2 separate regions of the Homo sapiens genome follow, and region 2 is linked to region 1. Evidence: fine-mapped expression QTL. A gene starts in region 1. The other region holds a variant in brackets. All regions are shown on one strand. Distances are from middle to middle.

Evidence for each region.
Region 2: its variant is fine-mapped to the expression of TGFA in tibial nerve (GTEx, PIP above 0.99).

The regions. Positions count from the first base shown.
Region 1 is chr2:70,552,603-70,555,102 of GRCh38, reverse strand. It overlaps TGFA (transforming growth factor alpha), which reads left to right and starts at 1,277. Exons shown (of 6, transcript NM_003236.4): 1 at 1,277-1,375. The coding sequence starts at 1,336. It overlaps LOC124907824 (a long non-coding RNA gene), which reads right to left and starts at 2,395. Exons shown (of 2, transcript XR_007086906.1): 1 at 1,711-2,395. RefSeq lists a silencer at 1,147-1,216.
Region 2 is chr2:70,356,516-70,359,529 of GRCh38, reverse strand. No RefSeq gene overlaps it. Among named protein-coding and RNA genes, the nearest start is that of FAM136A, 56 kb to the right of the region's middle. The variant C/G (reference allele first, on the strand shown) is at 1,629.

The DNA.
Region 1 (2,500 bases):
TCCTTCTTGAAACTAGGTTGCTCTACTTACATGAAACAAACTGGGCAGAGGTCAACCGTGAGAGCCTGAGCCTCCCCAAGTAAACAGCAAAAGATTCCCCAGGCCCAACAGCCCCCACCCCCACCTTCAAGGAAAGTGGATCTACCCGGAGCACGTAGGCCAGAGGAGGCAGGAGAAGAGGGTCAGTCCGTGAGCTCCGGGTACCTGGAGAACATGAATCTCCCGGGTGTACTGTCCCCATGAGGGTCACCGAGGAACCTATGGATCTTCCACTCTTCGCCCAGAATGTCTTCCCTCTATCCCCTCCACCTCCCCAAATTCCAGCACCAGGGGCCACCTCAGAGCCACAAATCCTGAAAGGACCACCCAGGTGACTCGGGCCCACACACCCCTCTTTCGGGGTACACTTGGTGGCAGGCTAGCAGGCTTTTGGCCTCAGCTGGTGGTGCCATATAACCAGATTCGTCACAGAGACCCATTTTTTATCAGTCCCAGGCCAGAAGTACGAAGACTGATCTTAACGATGTGGCCTGCCTGGGAGGTAAGGCGGCAGGCGTTGCCAGAATTGATGGGAACTGTGGCACAGGTGGGAAACCTGGTTTAACAAATTCTTCATTGATTCAGGGGACCACTTTCCTTGAGCCAAGTCTTGGCAAGCGGCCGGCGAAACTCACAGGTCCCTTTCCTGGCTGCGTCCCCAGCCTCCAGCCTTCCCCGCCCCAGAGATGCCCCAGGAGCGGCCCCTCGGTGTAGGTAACGGGTGCCCGGGCGGCTCCGCTCCGCCGCCTAGAGCCTGGAAGCCGCCACTGCGGCCCAGGACAATCCGGCTACGCGGCCGGCGCCGACCCCGCACGCTGGAGTCCGCTGCCGCACGGCGCTGGCAGTCGGGGGTGGTGTCTGAAGTCAGGCGCTTCCTGCCTTTTCGTCGGCCCGGGTGCCCGGCTCGCGCCGCCAGGCTCTGGGATCCCAGGTCGCCCCGCCCAGCAGCCCGCGCCCTGCTCGGTGCGCTCAGCGTCCCCGCCCCTTACCCCAAACCCCCACCCTCTGTGCCCTCAGGGGGGCACCCCCATCGGGGCGGGAGGGGGGGGTCAGCTGTGCCCCGGTCGCCGAGTGGCGAGGAGGTGACGGTAGCCGCCTTCCTATTTCCGCCCGGCGGGCAGCGCTGCGGGGCGAGTGCCAGCAGAGAGGCGCTCGGTCCTCCCTCCGCCCTCCCGCGCCGGGGGCAGGCCCTGCCTAGTCTGCGTCTTTTTCCCCCGCACCGCGGCGCCGCTCCGCCACTCGGGCACCGCAGGTAGGGCAGGAGGCTGGAGAGCCTGCTGCCCGCCCGCCCGTAAAATGGTCCCCTCGGCTGGACAGCTCGCCCTGTTCGCTCTGGGTACGTACGCCGGCTGCGGCGCCCCCTGCGCCGCGCGACACCCTGCTTCCCCCGGTCCCCGCCGAGTTCCCCTTTCCGGGGGTTTCTGCGCCCGCCTGGGAGAGTGGAGAGAAGCGAGTAGTCTCAATGGGTTGGCGCCTGGGAGGCAAGGGGAGTCATTAAGAATGACAAAGAGGGGACTGTCCGGTCGAGCGCCGAGGCTTCCCCGGGAAAGTGGCTGCCTGGGCCGTGCGTGAGAACACCTGGGAAGGGGAAGCGGAGTGTGAACGGGCTTGAACTTTAATCCGCCGCAGCTGTGTGTCTGCTCAGACACATGCCTACACCTACCTGCTTACCTGGCTGCCTCCAAGCCCGGCTCAGCCGGCGTCGCTGGCGTGTAGACTGGGCCGCCTCGGAACGGGGGCCGGCGTCTAACCCTCTGGCCGGGTCTTGCCTGCGCCCCTTTGGCACCCCCTGCCCACCTCTAAGCCCCAGCGACGAGCAGAGATGTTCAAGATCGGCAGAGGCGCCCTCGATCTCTTTTCAGAGCTCTTGAGCTTTGGGGGTAGGTTTTGGATTTTTGGGCGGATTAATGGTTCCTTTAATTAACTTCCCTGGGAGAAGTGGTTTCGGTGTCCGCCGAGGGCAGGAGCGAAACCCTAGACCGAGTGTTGCCAGTTTCCTTTGAGTATGTCCTTGGAAATGAAGGAGGGATGGGAAAGGTGAGGGGAAGTTAAACCCCTCTCCCGGGTCGGGTCTGCGGAGCGGTGCGTTTTTTGGCGGTGAAGTTCAAGGGTCTGTCTGGACGCGGTGAGGGCGCAGCGCCGCGCGCCTCCTGGCCAATTCTTGCCCCTTGTGCTGGTGGGTCTCTCTGGTGTTGAGATAGCTGATCAATAGCGCAGGTGTCCTGGTTATTGCTAGTCTTCCGTGAAGTGAATTGTTCGTTCGATATGCCCCGAGTTTAACCCGTATAGCATGCGGCTCGCTGCAGGGTGGTTAGAGTCTGTGGAAAGCCATGGAACTCCTCCCCAGAAATGCCCAGAGCCGCAGCCTCACCCAGCTCCGTGTACAACTACAGGGGGTTCGCGGCCCCGCCTGCAAGCCTGCCCTAGAAACGCTGATTAAAAACCGCAGCAGAAGGGGAGG
Region 2 (3,014 bases), 200 kb after region 1:
CATAAAAAATGATAAGTTCATGTCCTTTGTAGGGACATGGATGAAATTGGAAATCATCATTCTCAGTAAACTATCACAAGAACAAAAAACCAAACACTGCATATTCTCACTCATAGATGGGAATTGAACAATGAGAACACATGGACACAGGAAGGGGAACATCACACTCTGGGGACTGTTATGGGGTGGGGGGAGGGGGGAGGGATAGCATTGGGAGATATACCTAATGCTAGATGACGAGTTAGTGGGTGCAGCGCACCAGCATGTCACATGTATACATATGTAACTAACCTGCACATTGTGCACATGTACCCTAAAACTTAAAGTATATAATAAAAAAAATAAAATAAAAAAGAAATGTACAGTCCAATGTCATTTCTGGGTTTTTTTTAAGCCATTCACACAAAGCAATCTGATTCTCATTCATGTGTTTCTATATATGAATGTGAATATATAGGAAAGAAGTGATGGTCAGGGGGACAGTTTACTCTTACCATGGAATAGTAATTTTGTATAAAAGGACTGTAATAACATGTTAATTGTATAATTTTACATTAATACAATTAAGGTTTTAAAAATATGTGTGCAAGGCCAGGTATAGTGGCTCATGCCTGTGATCCCAGCACTTTGGGATGCTGAAGCGGGAAGATTGCTTGACCCCAGGAGTTCAAGACCAGCCTCTATGTAAAATAAGCAAGACCCAGTCTCTATGTAAAATAAAAAATTAGCCAGGTGTGATAGCACATACCTGCAGTCCCAGCTACTCAGGAGGCTGAGGTAGGAAAAGGATTGCTTGAGCCCAGGAAGTCAAGGCTGCAGTGAGTAGTGATTGTGCCACTGCACTCTAGCCTGGGTAACAGAGCAAGATCCTGTCTCAAAAAACATATGTGTATGTGTGTGTGTGTATACACACATACACACAAAATTTGGAAAACATGCAAAGAACAAAGAAGTAAATAAAATAACCTCCAATCCCACCTCAATTCCTAACTCTGGAACTCTTCCTTCCAGTGTTTTTTGGAGTCGGGGTCTGCTCAGCGTCACTCAAAGTATACCCAATCAGGCTGTCAGCTGCCCTTCTGCCCACAGGAGAGTCTGGGACCATCCAATCCAGAGAACTTCTCATCTAAATAGCACCTTGTCTCTACAAAGTCATTTGAATCACCCACCCTTTGTGATTCAAAATACTAAACAAAGTTATGAATTTTCCTATGACTGTTTCAATGCTTTTTTTAAAGCAGTAAATGTCAAAACCTTTCCAAACAAATGCTCCCCCTCCCTTTCTTTGTTTGGGCATTTGTTTTGTTATGCTTTGCCTTGTTTTGTCAGGATTTTTCATGTCCCTGTTTCTTGGTGCCCTAAACCCACATACAGTCTGCCTCTTGATTGATCCTATCTCTCCCCACCCCCAAAAAGGCTATGTTTGCAAAGACACACCCAGTTTGTCTGCCCCCACCCCGCCCCACATCTATTCCTCCTGTCTCAGTCTTGCCATTGTGTCCAGGGCAAGCTACAGAACAATGAATTCTTAGCAGATGATGGTATTGCCCTGTCCCCATGTTCTGAGCCAACCCCAGTTATGCCTGGCATCCGGGAGTCAGCGTTTTGTAGGCTTCTGTGACATTTGA[C/G]AGCTCACATCCCACTTCTTTCAGCATTTGGAGCAGGAAGGACAGAAGGCTGCTCTTGTCACCACCAATGAGCTCATCCTTCTCCGAGAGGCAATAAGAAAGCGAAATTTCACCCCATGAATCAGGAAGCCTGAATTCATGACAAGGCACACATTCCCCAGCTTCCTGACCCACCGGCTGACCTTTCCATAAAAAGGAAAACTAGACAAGGCCTCCTCCCTAGAATAAAATAACCGATCAAACAAGGATAAGACATTTTTTACTAAAACAAACCTTTCACCCCATCGACCTGAATCCTTTGATTTCTGTATACCTTTCAAGGTCAGAACACTTTCTTTTCAGTCCTCTTGGGGATGAAGTCACACATTTCCGGGAGCCTTTCCCAACTTTAGCACTTGGGGCAGCGTAACCATGAGCATGTCACTTAACCATCCCAGTTTCTTAATCTAGAAAGTTAAACTAGAACACTCATTTCTATCTTTTTGCATTGTTGAAAGGGTTCGCTCTATAATCCTAGTGCAAAATGTGCCCTCAGCATCATTCACTATCTCATAATACTGGCTGCCCAACTAGTAGATAAATAGCACCTTGGAATTCAGATTGACCCTTCTTGGCTGTGCTGTTCTTGAGAGGTTAAGTCTAGGAAGGAAGTAATAACAATGTAAGGTCAACGGCACATGTTCCAGAGAGTCAGACTGCCTGGCTTTAAACATTCTCTCCAACACCTACTGGTGGTGGAACCATGAACAATTTCTCAAGTTCTCCAAACCTTAGGTTCTTCAAATTAAAAGTAGGGAAGTGGAAATAAATAATGCTGTGTAGGGCTTTTGTGGTGAGTAAAGGAAACAATGCATACAAAGCACTTAGCACAGTGCTTTTGATAAGATTTTGATTGGAAGATGTTAGCTATTCTTACTTTGGTGGTCACTGTAGTAACATTGTGTGAGTACACTGTTGGAGATCAGAATCATTAGGGGTTCCATCCATAGTAAGATCACACATTCCCTGGAGAAGTGTCAGGTGTGGAAGATAGTCAAAGTTGGTATAGTCAGCTGTGGACTAATAAGGGCTCTTTGGATTACAAGTGTCAGATGCTCAACTCAAAACTAATATTAATGAAAAAAAGGGGATTCATTAGCTCTTTGTGGCAGGGTTGGAGTTCGCCTTGAGCATGATTGGCTCCAAAGACTCAAAGTCATTAGGGCTCTCTAACTCCTTCCCTCAGTCCTGCTTCTCTCTGTAGATTGGTCTCATTCTCTCTTTGATGGATGACTTCCTCTATGTAGCAAGTAACCCCAGAGGAAAGACAGAGCTTCTCTCTTCCAGCATGTGTGTGTGAAATCCAGGGAAAGATTGGTTTTGAGTTGAACATCTGACACTTGTAAT